Linked DNA regions of Homo sapiens: regions 2, 3 and 4 are each linked to region 1. The links come from fine-mapping of genetic effects on gene expression. A gene starts in region 1. Each other region holds a variant in brackets. All regions are shown on one strand. Distances are from middle to middle.

What was found. PIP is the estimated chance that this variant, and not a neighbour inherited with it, causes the effect. A credible set is the group of variants that fine-mapping cannot tell apart.
Region 2: its variant is the best candidate, but not a certain one, in a credible set for the expression of CPNE3 in whole blood (TOPMed, PIP 0.83).
Region 3: its variant is the best candidate, but not a certain one, in a credible set for the expression of CPNE3 in unexposed skin (GTEx, PIP 0.82).
Region 4: its variant is the best candidate, but not a certain one, in a credible set for the expression of CPNE3 in skeletal muscle (GTEx, PIP 0.84).

What each region holds. Positions count from the first base shown.
Region 1 is chr8:86,512,033-86,517,186 of GRCh38, forward strand. CPNE3 (copine 3) reads left to right here and starts at 2,403. Exons shown (of 17, transcript NM_003909.5): 1 at 2,403-2,509; 2 at 3,430-3,467. It also overlaps a transcript of RMDN1 not described here. RefSeq lists silencers at 2,372-2,451, 2,572-2,911.
Region 2 is chr8:86,572,089-86,577,242 of GRCh38, forward strand. CNGB3 (cyclic nucleotide gated channel subunit beta 3) reads right to left here. Exons shown (of 18, transcript NM_019098.5): 18 at 2,091-4,042. The coding sequence ends at 3,716. Among named protein-coding and RNA genes, the nearest start is that of CPNE3, 60 kb to the left of the region's middle. The variant C/T (reference allele first, on the strand shown) is at 2,413.
Region 3 is chr8:86,558,969-86,564,122 of GRCh38, forward strand. It overlaps CPNE3 (copine 3), which reads left to right. Exons shown (of 17, transcript NM_003909.5): 17 at 1-2,530. Among named protein-coding and RNA genes, the nearest start is that of CPNE3, 47 kb to the left of the region's middle. The variant C/T (reference allele first, on the strand shown) is at 3,038.
Region 4 is chr8:86,565,005-86,570,158 of GRCh38, forward strand. No RefSeq gene overlaps it. Among named protein-coding and RNA genes, the nearest start is that of CPNE3, 53 kb to the left of the region's middle. The variant G/A (reference allele first, on the strand shown) is at 2,842.

The sequences.
Region 1 (5,154 bases):
CACATGTTAAATTAATGGGTGAATGAATGAGAACAAAAGTAGAATGGGATTTAGACTGTAGTTAAGGAAAATGAATAAATACATTGAATAGCTATGGCACTATGTATTTAGATGATAGATTGCTGTTTGGATACTAAAAGTACAAAACCATCCCCTTGCCTCTACTCTTTCCCTATTTTAGTGTAAAGAAAAGTTTTGAAGGTTAGGTATGGATACTATATATTCTGGAAAATTTGAAACTTGCAATCCAATTAGTGGTGCCTAAGAACCTTCATTTACATGTGAAAGTAGAATCAAAAATAGAGCCAGAAACCTTTAGTAAAAACTAAAACACTTGTAGTACCTCCCCAGTACACTTCAGCAACAAAGGCCTTGTTTCTGCACTGGCAGTTTGTTCTTATCTTTGCCCCTGCTACCATTCCTGTGCCCCAGATATTTGCATAACTGGCTGCTGCTTATTTTTCAAATCTCAGATCAAATACCATCTTAGAGAGCTCTTTTCAGATCCCCAGTCTAAATAAGCTCACACTATCCTCAAGTCCCTCTATCACATCACCCTGCCTTAACTTTTCTCATGGCACTTCTGGCTGGCTGAAATCTCATTTGTCTTTAACAACTAACTTAAGATTCAACCGTCCTCTAGGATAGAAGTTCCTGTCTGTCTTGCTCACAAGTCTAGAGCAATGCACATAGTGTTTGTTGAATAAATGAATGAATCCTCACTGGCACTGATACGATTTTAAAAATGTTTAATTTGCAGGCCAGGCACGGTGGCTCACACCTGTAATCCCAGCACTCTGGGAGGCCAAGGCTGGCAGATCACTTGAACCCAGGAGTTCAACACCAGCCTGAGCAACATAGTGAGACCCCATTTCTTAAAAATAAATAAAATAAAAATGTTTAGTTTGCATTTCTTGGATTAAGAGTAAAGTTTTTACTTAAGAATGTCTGTGTTTCTTCATTTGATACCCTTTCCATTTCTTCTGTAATTAAAAAAAACCTTCACCCATTTTTCTATTGGGTGTTTTTTTTTTTCTTATCAATTTAAATGAACTTAAGAGGCCAGGCACGGTGGCTCACACCTGTAATCTCAGCACTTTGGGAAGCCAAGGTGGGTGGATCATCTGAGGTCGGGAGTTCAAGACTAGCCTGACCAACATGGAGAAGCCCTGGCTCTACTAAAAATACAAAATTAGCTGGGCATGGTGGCACATGCCTGTAATCCCAAGCTACTCAGGAGGCTGAGGCAGGAGAATCGCTTGAACCCGGGAGGCGGAGGTTGTGGTGAGCTGAGATCGCGCCATTGCACTCCAGCTTGGGCAACAAGAGCGAAACTGCGTCTCAAAAAAATAAAAATAAAAAATAAATGAACTTAAGATACTAACTCTGTCAGGTTTGGGACCAATATTTTTCCCAATGTGTTTTATTGATTTTGTCCCTGTTTCCTTGGGAAGAAGTTCTAAATTATCGAGCAGTCATGTATCAATATTTTCCATAGTGTTTTGTTTAGCTGCAGGCAGCATGGAGTAGCAAGCAGTCCAGCCTGCACTTTGAGGTTAGTTTACTTACAATTTGTGTGACTTCAGAAAAGTAGGCCAATTATTTAGCTTCCAAATCTCATGTTACTCAATTGCAGTTTTCATTTGTAAAATGGGTATACTGGCACCAAATACATCACAGAATCATGAGGATTAAAGGTAATGAAGGATATAAAATGTCCTTGGTAGTGTGCACATTAAGAATGCCCTAAATAAGCATATAAGCATGGTTAACAGCTAAGATGTATTTCGCTATTTTCATGTTGATAATTTGTCTTGGTAACTTTTTTTTTTTTTTTTAAGACAGGGTCTGTTTGTCACCCAGGCTGGAGTGCAGAGGCACGAACATGGCGCACTGCAGCCTGAGCCCGTGATCCTTCTGCCTCAGCCTCCTGTGTAGCTAGGACCACAGTCGCGTGCCACCACGCCCAGCTATTTTTTTTTTTACTTTTTGTAGCGGTGGAGGGGGTCTCATTTTTTTGCCCCAGGCTGGGGCTGGTCTCCAACTCCTGGGCACAAGCCATCCTCCCACCTCTGCCTCCCAAAATGTTTGGATTACAGGTGTGAGCCACTGCGCCCAGTCTTCTCAGTTCAGATATGGCATAAATTTTCTCAAATATTTAAATTATTTAATCCTTAAGGAATTTATTTTGGTGCACCAAACCACTTACCTTAAAGTCAGTTTTGCCTTTTCAGTAAGCGACTGGCCTCCAGAATGGCCTCGAAGCGCCAGCCTACTGGCAAGGAGCTGACATGCAGCCCGGAGTCAGCTCCCTGCGGATGGGCTGATCCTCGCGCAGGCTGTGCGGGGCGGGCGCGCACTGGACCCGCCCCATCCCCGCCCCCTCCCCGCCCCCTTGCTCTGCCAGTCCAGCCCTAGGTTCTCCTGAATCCCTGCGGTCCCAGCGTCGCTCCGGACGCTGCCAACCTGTTCTCCACCGTCGCTCGACTTCCACCTCTAAGACTCCCACGTGAGTGCGGGCGTCTCCCAGTTCCTGGGCCGGTGAGGCAGCAGCCCAGCAACCGTACCGCCCGGGGGAAAAGGAAAGTCCTGGCCTGGAGGATCCGAGCCCGCAGGCTCCGTGCGGCAGGTCCCGCCGGGCCCTGCTGCTGGAAGTGCTCCGTGGGCTTCGCGCAGCTGGGGATCGGCAGGTCGCGGGGAGGCTCCCGAGCTAGGTCGCGGCCTGGCTGGACCCAGGCACCGCCGACGCCTCCTGGAGGAGCCCGGGCTCGGGGCTCAGCTCCGGGCCGCAAGGCCCCGCCTGGGCCTGGCGCTCGCGCACCTGGGGCTGGGGATAGGCTGGGATCCGCCCTCCTTCCCTGGGCGGAGAGGGTCGGGCTTGTGGCCCAGAGAAGGGTGACAGGTCCCGAAATCGCTGCAGCACCACGCGGGGAGAGGGATAGGGTACCCACACCACGTCCGTGGTGAAGCCAATGCCCAGTTGAGCGGGGGGCGCGCGCTTCAGAGCACCCGAGAAGCTGGCAGATGGAGTGGGAAGAGGTGACTCTTGATTTCAGGGTAAACAAGGAGATTGTGAGAAGTAGTCTAGCAGCTCCCGTTTCTCCTCCAGCTTCAAGATTCTTCTGTCTAGTGTTTTGGGTTCCCTACACCAGGATTGTGGAGGAAGCGCACGGCCAGAACCCGTTGGGACCGAGCAGATCAACCATTTATGTTGCACTTAATGATCATCTGCACTTTTTGCATATCCTTAGTGTTGTCTTTGTGAGGCCACCTCTATAATGGATAATCAAATAGAGGGAAGGGCGGGATTGAATATTGTGACTTGATTTCAATGTCCCACAACAACTGTGCTAGACAGTTTTTATATGTTAGGTTATTTAACGCTCCCAAGCACTTATTAAAGTGATGTTACTCTGTTTCATTCTCCAGGAAACTCAGGTTGAATAATTCATCAAATTACACAACTGGTAAGTGGTGGCATTAGGGTTTGGAATTCAAGTCCGTATGGTTTTAGGGCACAGGCTTTATTGCTTAATGTAAAAGAACATTATTCTTTGGGATAAGCCAGATACCTAGGTTTCAAATCTATGCTATGAGGGCTGTTAGCTGTATGACCTTGGGCAGGATACTTCACCTTTTAGGGCCTGTTTCTGCATTTGTGAAATAGAGATAAAATGTCACAAGGTTGCTATGAGAATTAAATTAGATCCTACTTGTAAAACATTTAGCAAAGTGCTTGACACGTAGTTAGTGGTAAGCTATATATAGCCACATATATCCTGATGTCATTAATAAGGGTCAGCAAACTAGCTCTCTGTGTGTGCTGCCAGCCAGAGCCAAACAGAACTTGTGCAAGCCTAGAACATAGGTAGAGGGAAACAGCAAAGGATGGGAAACGAAAAGGGAACTGAAAACAGATGACATATATAATGGCAATTATAGTGACAACAATAGATGTCTCAGTCATTGATCTGTGGTACCCAGGGCCACTTTTTGCCTTTGCGAGAATTATTAATAGGTCAGTTCCTTTTGGCTGATGAATTGGAAAAATACATCCCACTCTGGGCTGAAAAATTTCAAACTCTGGGACTGGATCATTTTGAGACTCTAGATGTGAGGTGGAGCTGAATTTTAGGACCCCACAGACCAAAAGGTGCCTGGCACAAACCCCACAATGAAGTCTGCAGTTCTCTTTCAGGATTTCTTCTTTCAGGTCTAGTCCCTGAAGAATAGGAAGGGAGAGGAGGCTCCAGGACGGGAGAAACAGAAGGAGTGTTTGCCATTAAGGGTTGCATAATGACTGGACACCTCTTCTAATTTTACCTATAACTGTGAACACTTTATAGACAATGGTCTTCATTTTCATATAAGTTTATGGCAACCTATTATACATTTTAAAATATTTTATTTTCTATGCTCTTTATGATGGTATCACTGCTGCCCTGGGTATTTCCCTTGCAGCATCTGTTTCGGTACCTAGTTCATATTGTACTCCAACACCTATCAATTCTTTTATTTACTTATTTATTTATTTTATAATAAAGATGAGATCTTACTATGTTGCCCAGGCTGGTCTTGAACTCCTGGGCTCAAGTGATCCTCCTGCCTTGGCCTCCCAAAGTGCTGGGGTTACAGGTGTGAGCCACCACACCCGGCCCTATCAATTCTTGGTATGGCTTATCCATTGTTTCCTTTGCCTTCTTTATTTTTTGGTACTATCACTGGGCTTTTTTTCTTACTATTGTTAGAGTTTTCTCTTTTTTCCTCCCTTTCAAATGTTCTTTAGTCAGTGATTTATTATGCTAGAAAGTATGCCTGTTAGCAAAACTATAAAAGTTAATGTTAGATGTGAAAAATGATTATATGTCATTTGACCTTCAAAGATTCATAATGCCACCACTGCTCACCAAAGCATGATATTTCAGGTGGATCTTTTAGCAAGACTCAATGTCACTTCCATTGGTGGTACTCAGTGACCTGCAGGAGTCCTAACTAGAGCATTCCTTTACTGTACCCACCATTACCTTCAGCCTACAATCTAGCTTCCTTCCCACCAATATTTTCCCTTCTTGTTCTTGCTTGTGAGTGGGAATCGTATTGGGGTTTTTTTTGGAGAGACTATTTATTCTTTTAATATAACAGCTTAGCAGTATG
Region 2 (5,154 bases), 60 kb after region 1:
GCATGGTATTACTGAAGATTTCATTCTTTTTTCTTTTAAACAAACTATACTAGTATTTTAAAAATATCTATCCTTTTTGCTTTATGTAAATCTAATTCATTACTTCTAACTGCTGGATAGAACTTCATCTTACAAACACAACTATACTCCCACACACCATATTTTTTTTCCCATTCTCCTAGAGGTAGATATTAGAGTTGCCTCCAATTCCTTTGTACTATAAACAATGCTATATATCCTCATGGATTTCCTCTTATGGACCTGCTTAAGAATTTTCTGGCATATATACTCTGAAATGGTACTGCTGAGTTCTAAGGTGTGCTGCCAAAATTTTGCTAAGATTGCTAAAATAGTAGAGCCAGTGTACACACTTGCCAGCACTTGGCACTATTATCTGCTTTCAAGTATTTTTCCAGTTAGATGGGTATAAGGTGGTATTCCATTTTGTTCTGATTTGTATTTCTTTGAGCACAAGTGAAGTCAAGCACCTTTTCTCTGTCAATTGCTTATTTGTTTTTCTTCCATGAATTACTTACTCATATTCTCTCTCCCTTTAAAAAACTGGGCTTTTTGTCATTATGCAAAGAAAGCACAAGAGCTAGTTGCCTTCTTATAATTTATAATTAAGCAGAAATAATTTACAATTAAGAGGAAATTAGAGGACATGCTGTACTATGTGGCACTTCCTGAAAGTACAAAAGATAATCCCGTGAGATAGAACCATCATAGGTTGATGTTTTTAGAGGCAGTTGGGAGACAGAAAATGTGAGCAGAGTTGGAAGTATAGGACAGAGGTAAGTGACGGAGGAGAGACAACAACCTTCCAGAGTAAGGCAGGCAGCAGCGACAAAGGCCAGAGGAAGAAGGGCAGGTATTTGTTCCAGAGAAAAAGCAAGGAGACCCACTTAAGTGGAGGATATGGTTAGGGTAGTGGAAATTAAATTTGTATAAATAGGATTTAACTGGTAGGAGGACTAGTAGGTTCCTGTGATGATTGGTTTTTTGTGTCAACTTGATGGGGCCACAGGATGCCCAGATAGCTGGTAAAACATTATTTCTGGGTATGTTTGTGGATGAGATCAGCATTTGAATTGGTGGACAGAGTAAAGCAGGTTGCCCTCCCCAATGTAGGTGGGCATAATACAGTTTGTTGAGGGCCTGAATAGAACAAAAATATGGAGGAAGGGAGAATTTGCTCTCTTGGCCTGGTTGCTCATCCTGGGACATTAATCTTCTCCTGTCTCAGGCTGCAACCTTTACCATTAGCTCTCCTAATTCTCAGTCCTTTGGATTCAGACTAGAGCTACACCACCAGCTCTCTTGGGTCTCCAGCTTAAAGACTGCAGATCATGGAACATCTCAGCTTTCACAATTGTGTGAGCCAATTCCTAATAATAAATCATGTATATATAAAATATATAAATAAAAAACATGATAAATATCTCTATATGATATATATTAAAATATATAATAAATCTCTACACATATTTGTAATATATAATATATATTTAAATATATTTATTATAAGGAATTGGCTCATGAAATTATGAAGGAAAAGAAGTCTCATGATCTACCATCTACAAACTGGAGTCCCTGGAAAGCCCGTTGTATAATTTTAGTCTGAGTCTGAAGGCATCAGAACCAGAAGAACCAGTGGTCTAAGTTCCAGTCTGAATCCAATGGCCTGAGATAGATATATATCCCCTATTTTTTTTTTCTCCCTCTGGAAAACTCTAATACAGCCACTGAGCAGGGAAGTAACATGGTCAAAAGTAGGGTTTTAGAAAGATTTTATTTTCCAATAGCAAAGGGACTAAGAGGGCAGACCAGTGACAAGAGCAGACTATAGGTAAAAAGTGAATGTTTATTTGCATTGAACAGAAAATATGTTCTGGGTGTTAGCAATGGGATTGAAAAAGAAAGGATAATTAGAAAGATTTAAAAAGAAAAAGAATTTGGTGGCACCAAATCAACAATAAAAGAGTTCTTGAATTTTCTTAGATTTTAGTCTGATGGATTGGAAATAAATTGATATTATCTGAAACAGGATAGCTTGGGGGGGAAAATAACTGCCAGGCGAAAAGCATAAATTGCAATGGTCTTGTATTTTAATATCATTTGAATAAATTACAGGGTGTAAAGGGAAAGCATATTGCTCACAAGTTGAGGACTTTTGTCCTTTTCTTTTCCTATTATCAGATGCTTCAGCCCTATTCTACCTTTTGTTTCTGGGTTTTTAAATCACCCTTTTTATACGCAATTCACTCTTTCTGCATACAAACTCCCATTTATCAAATAAATACTATTTAACAATTTGTCCATATTCCCTTAAATCCTGAAAAAACCAACCATCCTTTAGTAAAACTTGTTATATTTTGTGATACTCTAACACTACATGCAAAAACGGTGACT[C/T]TATCAAATGATGCAGTTTATTATAGTGATTGATTTGTACATGGTTTGCTAAATGCATCTATGTTGTAGGCTTTTTGGCTAATATGATTTGTTAAAACCCTCTCAGCAAAGTGCTGTTACAGTGACCATCTTTGGAGACTTGGAAATAGCCTCATTACACAGAACTTGATGTTATACACTAATGGCATTTATTAGAATGGAATTCTATATGTATTATTACTTCCGACACCAGCCTGGCCTTTGTAGCCTCCTCACAGCATGCAACGTCGGTAATTATGCTAATGCTAGCTAATTCATGAGGACAACTTCCTAAAGTGCCCTTAATTAACTTGGAGATTTTGTAAACAGCTATACATGTAGGTTCCGGAAATTGTGGGGATATGTCAATCTGACATGTGTAGAGTCTGCCTTCCTAACCTCATCACTTTGTTTTACTAAAGCTTAATTTTAAACAAGAAGTTCCAATCTGATATCTTTTCCAGCAAGTGCTTGAGGAAGATTCTGATAAGTGTCACTTTAGCCTGTATCCTCCAGTCCAAGTCCCTTGAGCCAGATGAGTTAGGTAGATTGGTGTCTTTTAAGTTGGTTAGAAGAGAAAATATTGAAGTTTATTTCTTTAGTAAAGGGTACAATTTTTCCAATATGTTCCTGCAATGTGATTTTGCCAGTTTGCTAATTCTGCCGACCAACATTGGTCTTCAGGGGACTGTTCCAAAAATCAGACTTCTCATTCAGAAAGCTTCATGATCTCTGCTTCCCTTCAGTCCCAGCTGCTGGGGATTTTTTGATATTACAGTGACTCATCATCCTCATTTGAATGAAAATAATCTGATTTTTGACCTATTACATTAAAATCTTATACCCTTTACATGTAAGAGGTGAAATTCATAAACCTAGAACAATTAGCCAGGCTTTAGAGTGCCAAAGAAGAAATTAAACACAATAAAAATTAAGAGAAAAGGTTAGTGAATCACATCACAGCCAAGAGCAAGCTAATAAAACTGGAAGGAAGAGACATCATCAGGAAAGAACCAAAGGAAAAGGAAACTTACTACATACAATTAGAAGATATAGCAATTGCATAAAGTTAATGAAAACGGAGAATAGGGATGGCTTTTAATAATCTTCTTATTACCACTGCATGAAATCACACTCTCAGATAAGTCCTAGAAACTAAGCTAGGGATTTGCCTTTCGTTTCTCAAGGGTCCCAGCATGTCGTTTCCCCTCGTTAATTTAAGTTACAATCCTAGGTACAATCACTTTGGGAACTAGCTATATCACATCTAAAGATAATCAAACATTTATTGCTTAGCCTTTTCTTTGACTTCAATAGTAAGAACCTCTTCTCCGCCCTCAGCAGAAGGAGCCATGCTGATAATGAGTGATTGACGAGAAGTCCCTCTGGGTAAAACTGTCCTTCTAACTGAGTGGGGTTCTTCCTCCACTGCAATAGGACTTGCTGTACATTCAGGTCTGTCCAGTGGCTTCTCTTCTGGCTCTCTTCCTTTATCTTTATCTTCATTTTCTTTTCCTTTATCTTCATTTTCTTTTTGTTTATCTTCATTTTCTTTTTGTTTATCTTCATTTTCTTTTCCTTCTTCCTCTCCTCCTTCAGAATTTTCTTTCTTCTGGAAGGAGCAATTACAAAGAACTGGTGTTGAAATCGTAATTAAAAACATTGGATTAGATTTTGATTAGCATGCAATGGCTAAGATCACCACCAAGACAGACTGTCTGAATTAAGTGAATCCAGGAATCATGTCTGCTTTGCTTCTGACTATCATTTGATGAAGTTTCTGGTGTGCTAGAGAATGGACTTGTTGCCTTTGACTCATGATGTTAGTCTGAATTGCATTTTTTTGTCTCTGCCAAGGAATTCTCTTCCTATTGGTCCTTATACTCTCTGAATTATTAGACTCAGTGCTCAGGACTCTGTTTTTGCTTTTTAAATATTTACTTATTCTGTAGAGATAAAATTTTAAATATTTATTTTTAATAAAAACATATTAACCAATACTATATAAAAATACTGTAAAAAGTAGGGTTTTCCTCTTGCCTAAGCTTGTGGGAGAACCTCAGGGAGAAACTTATCCCTTTCCTAGTATGATCTTTTCCATTTGTCCCACAGGTGCTTGACCTGTCATGTTTGTACCTATCGTGTTTAGCACTAGCTATAGAAATTTCATAGCAAAAGGTACACTATGCTCTTTACTGGTAATGCTTGGGATCAATTTGAGAAAGGCTTGCCTGACATATGAATGTGCACAGATAAAGTTGAGATTCTTAACACATTTACTTATATATTTCTTTACTCCCATACATTTTTTATGCAAATTATTATTTCTATGCTGATGCAAATGAAGCATTTGGTTTATACTGGATCCCTAACTTTCACCACAGTGTTGTATGTGTGGAAAAGGAAAATGCAAGTTTTCATCTTTTGTATGTGACTGACTTTATAATATGTGCTTTACTTATTTTCTGAAAGGTCCACAGCTACCCATTTCTACAGTTTTAGAGATAACATAATGACTAGGTTCAGAAAACCTGAATCCCTGCTCTGTCTGTTTCTCAATATCTGCCCTCATAGGCTAATTATGAGAATCAAAGAAATATGAAACCAAAAAAAAAGAGAGAGAGAGAGAGAAACAATAACATTTGAGTTTCTTTACATTTTTAGGAATTGAAAGGCAGCTTAGTGTAGGCCTGTAAGTCTGAACACCTGAGTAATAGCTTTCTG
Region 3 (5,154 bases), 47 kb after region 1:
CAGCATGCACTCAACTTGGGACTTTATGAAAAGTACTGAATGAGCAGGAAAAGGCACATACTCAGTTTTTTAAATGTACAATCAACAAGTAAAAATAACCTCATGTAAGTAAGCCATTTTTATTTGCCTTTCTAGATATTTTATTTTATTGTGGAAAACTGTAAACATGGTCAGATTTGGCTTTTTTTTTCATTAACTGAGCAAGACTTTCAGGATATTGTAGATGCACAGATGGTAGGTTGTCCTGAATTCTACATTATTAGATTACTTTAATTGAGATTTGTTAAAACGGTTAGGACTGTTTTGTCCAGGAAAGATAAGAGGACCAAACATATAAGGTGAAATTCAGAATTCCGTTTCCTTCTAACTAATGAAAAACTGCTTACTAAAAAAAAATTTTATACTTTCCTTGCTAAGGTCCCATATATTGATTTGTACAGATCCACTTAGTCATTTTCTCCTTTTTTTAAGAACCATTTTCATCTGATTTTTAAACTCACGATACCAGTTATCTGTTAATCAAAATTGCATTTTACAATTTAATAATGTGATATTTCCTATGTCTACAGCATACCTTATTAGGTATAAAACCTACTGCAACTTAGAAAAAGGAAAGAAAAAAGAAAACTTTTCCAACTGCTGCATTAAGATAGGGTGGATTTTATGTGCTTTTTTTTTTTAAGAGTTGAATTTCTTTTCCTGACTTTTACCTTTTACAGCGTATTACTTAGTGAACATTACATTTTCAGAATAGATCCTAATATTTTATTGAGGGCCTATGTGCTAAAAACTATGCATATCTATATATTGGCCAATTATCTTTAATAATTTACCTTTTGAAATTGCATGTTTATCATATATCCTTAAGTGGACACATACAGTGCCATGTTGATGTGCCTCTCAGTTTTATTGAAAAGCTGCCCCACAGCCCATGTCTCTTGTTCTCTGCAATGCCTCAAGGGAGTGAGCTCTCAACCACAGATAGCTGTGGCTTCTCAGAAGCAGCTCATTGCCAAGGCCAGGCTGAGAGGGGACCTGCTTGCTGTGGTGGTTGCCTAGCCCAGATGAGCATTTACCTACCACCTTCCCACTTGGCTAGCTGTCCTTTGGATATGTGCTGTTAACTGGGGAAGGCATCTAACTAGTAGCCTGCTACTCCATAGTATGGCTCAATAGATGACACATCATTTTGACATTATCAATAGGAGAAAAGAAAACTAACCCTTCTTCTGATTGTTTGGAGCCATAGTTGTCTCAGATGTTCTAATTCTCTTTGTATGCTTGGAAACAGCATAGATATGTTGCTGTGGTTTTCAGAATTTTCTCTTTTAATCACAAGAAGCCTTTTAAAAAATGACTTACACATATTCTCAATGTACAGTAAAACAGACAGAAGTGAGCTTATCTGTTTGATGCTGTGGCAGGGTCCCAGTCACTGGGCATATCCTCCTTCTCCTTAACCAGCTCCACAGCAGCCCCTGAGTCACCTGCACAAGGTGCTTGGGAACTGCTGGTTATGAGCATTCCTGGTTTTCTTCAGCCAAATAACAGGTAATCACTGTCAATTGGATTTGGTCTTCATTATTTTATATTCTGATTTTATCAGAATTATTCTATTTTAAAATTGTTTTAAAATTTAAAACATTTAATTCATGATCATGTTCATCAGTAGATGCTATTATTCATAAGAACTGTGATTCCAGCAAACTAGGGTAATTGGTGCCTTTTTACAGTTTTGAATAAAAGCATTTACAATTTCTAAATTATCAGTTTTCACAGTTTCAGCACTCAACCTCATCATACGCTGATTTAATATTGTTTTACATTAAAATAGTCCTTTTCCCTGTTGTGCCACCATTCATTTAAGTGCTGTTTGTTCTTAAAATGCATTTAAAGAAAAATTACCCATATTGACTTTCACACCTCATATAATCAGATCTATTACAAATATATATCGGAGTGACGGTGCCCAGGATAGATGTAATATTTCTTACAGATGCTGGCACAGAGGAAATAATATACCAGCTAATCTAGTCACCTAACCTTGTGGTTAGAATTGCAATTTTAAGACCAGAAAAATTTGAAGTCTGATCAGAGATTTACAACTGTTCATTATAGTGGTGCCTTAGGCAATCTTTCCAAAGTAAATTCAGGGCCCCATTGCTACTTATGCCATATTTGGACATACTTTTTTTTTCTTCAATTTTGTAAACTTCCTGGAAAGCTGTCTTCACTAAGTATCCCCTAGTCTCTATATATGTGGTTAGTAGTCATGGAAATGACACATAAAGTACGCCAGAAGTTTGATGGAACGTGTTAGAAACTGTTTTGTGCTTTTATGGATGTCATACTTGACAATACATGTGTAAGTTACTAATATATGAATTGATGCTAAATATATCTTACATTTGAATTCCTTTTGGATAAAGTTATTTCTTGATGTGACAGAGTAGTGTGTTTTCATTTTTATTCTTTACATGTGACCAAAACAATAGAAAAGTTAAAAATAAAATATAGTGTTTTAGGTGGCCTTTGACTTCATATTTTACTGAATTAAACAATTTGGGGGATATTATTTTATGGGATTTATTTGTTTAAAAGATATTGAGTGGGTCCAAGATACTCTTCTGGGTACAGTAAAGGAAAGATTCTTAGCTTATAGCTAGAATGGCCTGAGATTATCAATCATGTTAAGAAGGATAGTGTAACCACCTAATTTTAAAAAAAATGTTTTAATTGCTTTTGTCATGGGCATTGGGCAGGACTTTGCCAGTGGTAACCAAGACAGCCACGATTGCTGCCTTTGTAGAAATAATGGTCTAGTGGGGGAGAGAAAACATTGAGCAAGTAATTATAGAGATGTGAGATCTGTGCGTGAAACAACATACAGTAGAGAGAGACCTAACCCATCTGAGAGGCAAGGAGCACTTCCCTGAGGATGTGCCATGTAAGCTAAGACCTGAAAGTTAGCTAGGTGAAGAAGGTTAAAAGCACTTATGAAGCTGTCAGGCCAACAGCAAGTATAGAGTTGAATGTT[C/T]TAGGAGTGGACAGAAGTTTGAGTTTGCTGAAATATAAAGTATAAGAGGGAAAGTGGTAAAAGAAATGAGGTGGAGTGGTTGGTGGTGTTTACATCCTGAGGGCCTTTTGGGGCAGGTAAGGGAGTTCAGACTGAGGCTTAGGGTAATGGGATGCCACTAAATTGATTTAAGCAAATGAATGATGTGATTATATTTGTGCATTTGAAAAACCAGAGGACCATACTTTTTAGGGCAGACAGATGAGTTCAGAAGCCCACAGAGTTCCACATGGAACCCTGTGACCAAATGTGGGTCTAGTCGCAATGGCTTTGCCTTGGTGAAGGCCAGATGGCAGAGCTGATAGTGGTCACCTTCTGGCAGACACTCAGCTGTTTGGTCACATACTTTCTAAGTGTCTGATTCTAGGTCTGTTTCCAAATTCTGAGCTTTTCCTGCCTCACTATCAAATTGTCTGGTAGACCCGTATCTTGTTGGTTCCTTAATGGTGCAGAGGCTGGTTCAGACCTGGTGATAATATGTCTTCAGGAATGCCAAACCCTTGCATGTAGCAAGACCATCACCCTTGTCACTTGTCACCAAATAACATCACTTCCTGATCATCACTACATTTGGCCAGATTCTCCAGAAAAACCACAGTAGTTTGAAATGTCCATACAGAATTACACTTTGGCTTGGCTGTTGATTCCTTCCTCCAAAATGATGGAAAGTATTATTATAAGCAGAATTGTGACTTCTTACTGCTTGGGAAAGGAGAGCTATCTCTGGTCTTTCATCAGCAGATGCTTACAAAGCATTTATTGGTGCTCACAAAGCACCAAGTTTTATAGCAGCACCTGGTCTTCTAGGACTGGAATCAGAAGAATTTCAAGGATGGGGAGCTTTAAGGAGTTCTCAGAGAAAAGTCTGAGTAGGAAATAATTTGCTTTTTTCAACCATCCCTTCCTTTCAGTAAGAAGTATTCAATTTTTCTTTGAACAAATATTTATTGGGTAGTCTATTACTGGCAATCAACAGGGGAATTCAAACAGAGTAAAAAAATTCTTGCTGACTTCAAAGCTTATGATCTAATATGGAAAAGGAGACAGTATATATGTTAAACAGAACAAGAGTGAGCAAGGTGAGGGACTCTGCTGTGTTGGAGTAAGACTGGCCCTTCTTGTGCCTTCAGGCATCCATGGTGATGAGGAAAGAGGGTCCCTTGAATGCTGCTTCTGGAAAGATGCTTCTCCTGCCCATCCTGCTATCATTCATTGCTCTCCACTACCATCCTGTGATCACTGTTCATGCCAGTCCTCACAAGAAGCCCAGACCATTAGTTTCCAACCCCTGTATTCTGACTCCATATCCCACTTCTCTCCAGTGCCCCATACCCTTCCACTCTGCCCTCAAGAACTGGGTCGTTCATTAGCAGAAATTTCTGATATCAATGTTTTTTTCTGAATAGTCCCTTCACCTTTTAATTCTAATTAAAACCTGCCTCTCTTGAAGAACATTGCTTCCTCTGCTGCCCTCTCAAGTGATGGTAATTTCCTCTTCCTGATCTACCCCTGGGCTTGGAGGCTGCGTAGGTACCCTCCTTGATCCTCCCTTCTGCTTTCAGAGAGCTTTTCCCTCCTCTTTAAAACCTCTGGCTTTGAATCTTGCATCATTAGATTAGATCACTCTCTATCCCTCCTTATAATAATACTGCTCTCTATTCAACCTCAGCCCACATTCTGAAGGTCATATGCTAGACCTTATCGTTATTGATTTAAAAAAAACCCTCCCTGATCGCATTTTCAAGTATTCAGTTTTTCAATAACAACCACTTTTGCAGTTCACTCCCTTTAGTACCACAACTCTAACAAGTCTCCCTCCATGCCTTCAATCACAAATCCTACCAACTTCTCAGTGTCTCGATGGTCTGGCCCCTCCTGCTCTTTCCTTTTCTAAACTTCTTTTCTACTAATCTCTGCATTGTCATTCACTCCAACCACATGGGCTTTCTTGCTCTTACTTGAATATGCCTGGCATATTCCTGGCTCAGGGCTTTTGCACTTGCCGTTGCCCCTTCTTGAAAACCCAGCCTCCCCTAGCCACTTGGGAACCTTGCTCCCTCACCTCCTTCAGGTCTTTA
Region 4 (5,154 bases), 53 kb after region 1:
TATAAAGATAGAAGTTAGTTTATATGAGAAAATATTGAAGCTTAGAATGGGAAGATTTTCTATTCAATGTGGAGAGTCGTCAGGGCAGTGGGAAGATCTTGGAGAGCTTCATGGATGGTTTGACATTTCATCTGGGATTTAAAGGTTTTATGGGGCTTTATAATGTAGAGAAAGCGGAAGAGCCTTTCAGCAAAGAAATTGGCATTGTCAGTGGCATGGATTAAGAAAGCGTGGGTTGAGAAACATTGTTAGTATAGGGAGATGAATGTATGAATGAACCGTTTTGTTTCATAACTAAATCTCTTTATTCACTTTTACAAATGTGATATTGAAATTCAAACAATATTGATCTTCCACATATTTTATTTCTTTATTTTTTATAGAGACAGGGTCTCAAACTCCTGGCCTCAAGTGATCTGCCTGCCTTAGCCTTCTAAAGTGCTGGGATTACAGGCATAAGCCACCATGCCCGACCACACATATTTCTATTTTAATGAAATCTGTGGTTAGTCCTTTTCTGAAGGACATGCTAAATCTGAATTTTTCCTCTCAGATTTGGAATATAAATATGGTCCTAACATGGCAGACTTGATCATCATTTGACCCCATAAAATCTTGGCAAATGTACTTGTTTATTTGAAAAAGGCCTGCTTTAGGTGGATGCTACTTTTATCAAGCCTTTCCATGGGCTTCATGTTTGAAAAGCATGTGTTATCTTTTGACCTTGAACTCTGCTTTACTCTGGCGTAGCCCTGGACAAAGGGTCTTATTACAAAACACGAATGTTTTGTAAAATGGGACTTGGGGTAGGAATCGTTAAATTCCCTTGCAAGTCTAAGATTCTGGTGTAAACAACAGAGCTTGATTTATTCAAAGCTGGATGCAAGAAGCTGTATCACGAGCCCAGTTAATAACCCTTAGCATACACTATATGCTGAATTCTGTATTGCTTAGGATTCCCAGCAGAGAGGATTCTCATAAATTTGTGGCAGAATCATTGTGTGCATTGGGCAGAGATGACTAGAGGTGCAAACGGACAGTAAGGGGGCTGTGACCTTTCAGGTATCACTCCCTTTCCTCATCCGAGGGAGTTATTATCTAGAAATGTCAGGTTGCATTGCTTAATGATGCACATTTATTTGACCTTTGCACCGTCACTTCTAGTCACAAAAGTTATAGTAGGAAAAATACAGTCAGTCATAAAAACCCATAGAGAAAAACATCAAATTTTACTACAGCGTGTGGGTATGGTACTTAAAATATCAGTTTCAAGTATCTTTGGTCTGATTAGTTATAATAAATTCCAGAACAGCATAATGATTAATTAACACCTTCTAAAGATTTAAAAAATTCCCGTAGGTGGGTAAAGGCATTATTGTAAATATAGAACAGGTCCAAATTACTAAAAGTACAGATTCTTCTCTTATTGGTTTTCTGTGTAGCAATTTTTCATCTAATACAACTGAAATAAAATAGATTTTTATATATCAAGGGTGTTCAATCTTTTGGCTTCCCTGGGTGACATTGGAAGAATTGTCTTAGGCCACACATAAAATAAACTAACACTAATGGTAGCTGATAAGCCAAAAAAAAAAATTTACAAAAAAACTCATAATGTTTTAAGAAAGCTTACAAATTTGTGTTGGGCTGCATTCAAAGTTGTCTGGGCTGCATACGACCTGCAGGCTGCAGGTTCGATAAGCTTATTATATATTATGTTAAGAGGGGACCAAGTTACTCCTTTCCTTTGAGTATACTTAGAGCTTTCGGCCCATTCTAATACTACAATTGGTGAAGTTGTGCAATTCATTTTATTTTTCTTTTTTTAAGTCCTTCTTTGTTTATAGACAGAGTCTCACTGTGTTGCCCAGGCTGGATTGCAGTGGCATGATCTTGGCTCACTGCAACCTCTGCCTCCTGGTTCAAGTAATTCTCCTGCCTCAGCCTCCCAAGTAGCTGGGATTATAGGCACCCGCCACCATACCCAGCTAATTTTATTTATTTATTTATTTATTTATTTATTTATTTATTTATTTATTTTTGAGATGGAGTCTTGCTCTGTCGCCAGGCTGGAGTACAGTGGCGCGATGTCAGCTCACTGCAACCTCTGCCTCCCAAGTTCAAGCGATTCTCCTGCCTCAGCCTCCCGAGTAGCTGGGACTACAGGCATGCACCATCATGCCTGGCTAATTTTTTGTGTTTTAGTAGAGACAGGGGTTTCGCTATGTTGGTCAGCCTGGTTTGGAACTCCTGACCTCAAGTGATCCACCCCCCTCAGCCTCCCAAAGTGCTGGGATTACAGGTGTGAGCCACCGGACCTGGCGTTTTAATTTTTTTTTTTGAGACAGAGTCTCGCTCTGTCACCCAGGCTGGAGTGCAGTGGCACGATCTCAGCTTACTGCAACCTCTGCCTCCCGGGTTCAAGTGATTCTTTTTTCTTGTGTCTCATCCTTCCAAGTAGCTGGGATTACAGGTACATGTTACCACGCCCAGCCAATCTTTTTGTTTCTTTGTTTTTTTAGTAGAGACGGGGTTTCACCATGTTGGGCAGGCTGGTCTCAAATTCCCAAAGTGCTGAGATTACAGGCGTGAGCCACTGCACCTGGATGAAATTGTGCAATTTAAAAGTCATTTCTAGTTCCAAGTTCTCTCTTGTTTAAAGAAAGGTTTTGCTTATTTTTGACGTGGTCCTTGTGTGGGGTTGGCAGATTTAGCAAACAAAAATACAAGATGTCAAGTTAAATTTGAATTTTGGACAAAAATGAATATTTTTTCATATAGGCAAGTCCCAATTATGGCATGGAGCATATCTATACTAAAAAATTATTCAGGCTGGTCATG[G/A]TGGCTCACGCCTGTAATCTCAGCACTTTGGGAGGCTGAGGTGAGCAGATCACCTGAGGTCAGGACTTTGAGACCAGCCTGGCCAACATGGTGAAACCCCGTTTCTACTAAAAATACAAAAAGTAGCCAGGCGTGATGGCACACGCCTGTAATCCCAGCTACTCGGGGGGCTGAGACAGGAGAATCGCTTGAACCCGGGAGGTGGAGGTTGCAGTGAGCTGAGATCGTGCCACCGCACTCCAGCCTTGAGCAACAGTGAGACTCCATCTCAAAAAAAAAAAAAAAAAAAAAAAAAAGGATTCATTAACTGAGTGTCCTGTGTTTTATGTGACAATTCTGTTTGATAGATTGAAAAATGGCCAGAATCCTTCCGCTGCCTCTGGATCCACTCCTTTTGCAATGTGACTTTGCTGTCCCCCCATTAAGAAGTGGATTTCATTTCTCTACCCCTTTAATCTAGGCTGGTTTTGTGACTTACTTTGGCTAATAGAATGTGTAGACATAATGATGTGTGAATTCTGAGCCTATGCCTCAAGAGCCTGGCTCACTTCTGCTTTGTCTCCTCTCAGAACCTTGTGCAGTCTCCACACCCAGTGTACCCATTTTCAGGATGACAGACCATGTGGTTAGAAAAAAGCTGTCCCATCTGAGACTGTCCTGAGACTGTTCTACACCAGCCAGCCCCCAGTCAATCCGGCAGCTGACTATAGAGCATGAATTAGCCCAGCTAAGACCAGAAGAACGAGCTCAAATTGGCAATCTATAGAAACCAATAAATGATTCAGGAGCTAATAAATGATTATTTTAACTTACTACATTTTAGTTAGCAAAAGCAAATTAATGTAGTTTGACAATGCAAAATAGAGCTGGGCATTTTTAAGACCAGAGGACAGCTTATAGGTTGTGCTGAGTTTTGGAGGCCACAGATAAAAGTGAAATAGAAGGTGATATTATAATCAATTTTGAGCAAATAACACTTGGAATGGCTTCAGTGAATCAGAGGAAATTGCTTGTTGAAATAAACACTTGTGCCCACAGGGTGAAAAAATTACTTCTTATAGAGATATTGTTTTCCTTCTTTAACTATTTAAGATTTAAAATATAGAACCTCTGCTGAGTGGCTTCTTCCTTCTTTCTCTGCAGATCTTATCATGATACATCTCTTTTAACCAGCCCATGCTGCACTGTATTTCTGGTGATTAATTGTCGAGGTCAGACCTGGGCAGTGAGGAAAGACCTGGTCTGGGAAGAACTTTCATATATAATAAGTCTTCACTTGACATTAACCAATTTTACCATAGGCTGATTAGTATAAACAAGAGTTAAGTTCCCATGGCATATTTCTGGTCATAAAAACATCACCAAACTTCAAAATAATGACCAAGACACCTATAATATTAAACATTGAAATAAGTGTGAGCTGTACGCACATTTAGGAAAGATTAATTAAAACAAGATAATTACTTACTCAATTATTCCAGTTCAGAGTCTCAGGTGACCTAAGAATATCCCAGCAGTGAAGGACACAGGTAAGAACTGACCCTGGAAAGGATGCCATCCATCACAGGGTGCATTCACACACACCCACACACTCACACACATGCACACTCACACACACCCACACAATCACACATGCCCACACACACACACATACCCACACACACCCACATTCACAAACACACACACCCACACACACACACAAACACACTCCCACACTCACTCCGACTGGGACCATTTAGACACAGCAGCCCACCTAACAGGCACTTCTTTGGGACATAGGAGAAAACTGGAGAAACCCACACAGTCATGAAAAGAACGTGCAAAATCCATGCAGACAGTGGCTGTAGAGAGGAATCTATTTTTTTCTCACTCATGTTATAACAAAACGACATTGTATGTAACTACATTACTTGAGGACCTGCTGTATCTATAAATCATCAATTAATTAGTCAAATGATTAATGAACATGGACTATAGGGAGTCCAGAGAAGAGATATATGTGGATTAGCAGTAGTAGGGAAAGAAAGAAGTAGGGAAAAGCTCACCTATTATCTCTGGGGACCCCTGGATGTCTGGATTTTAACTCTTGGCCAAGATAAGGGCAGTGAGAATAATGCGGTGTTTAAAGTGCTAAACTCTGGCGACTCCGAGTCAGTTTCTTCACTAAAGGTTTTCTAGTGATCTAATTGGTTAGGCAGCATGCCTTTGATATGTGGAGAGAGGGGTATATGAAGCCCACTGTTGATTTTATAGCTTTGAGCTCTCCCAAAGCCTAGATTCCTTGCACAGATCTTGGTGGTTCAATCCCTGAGA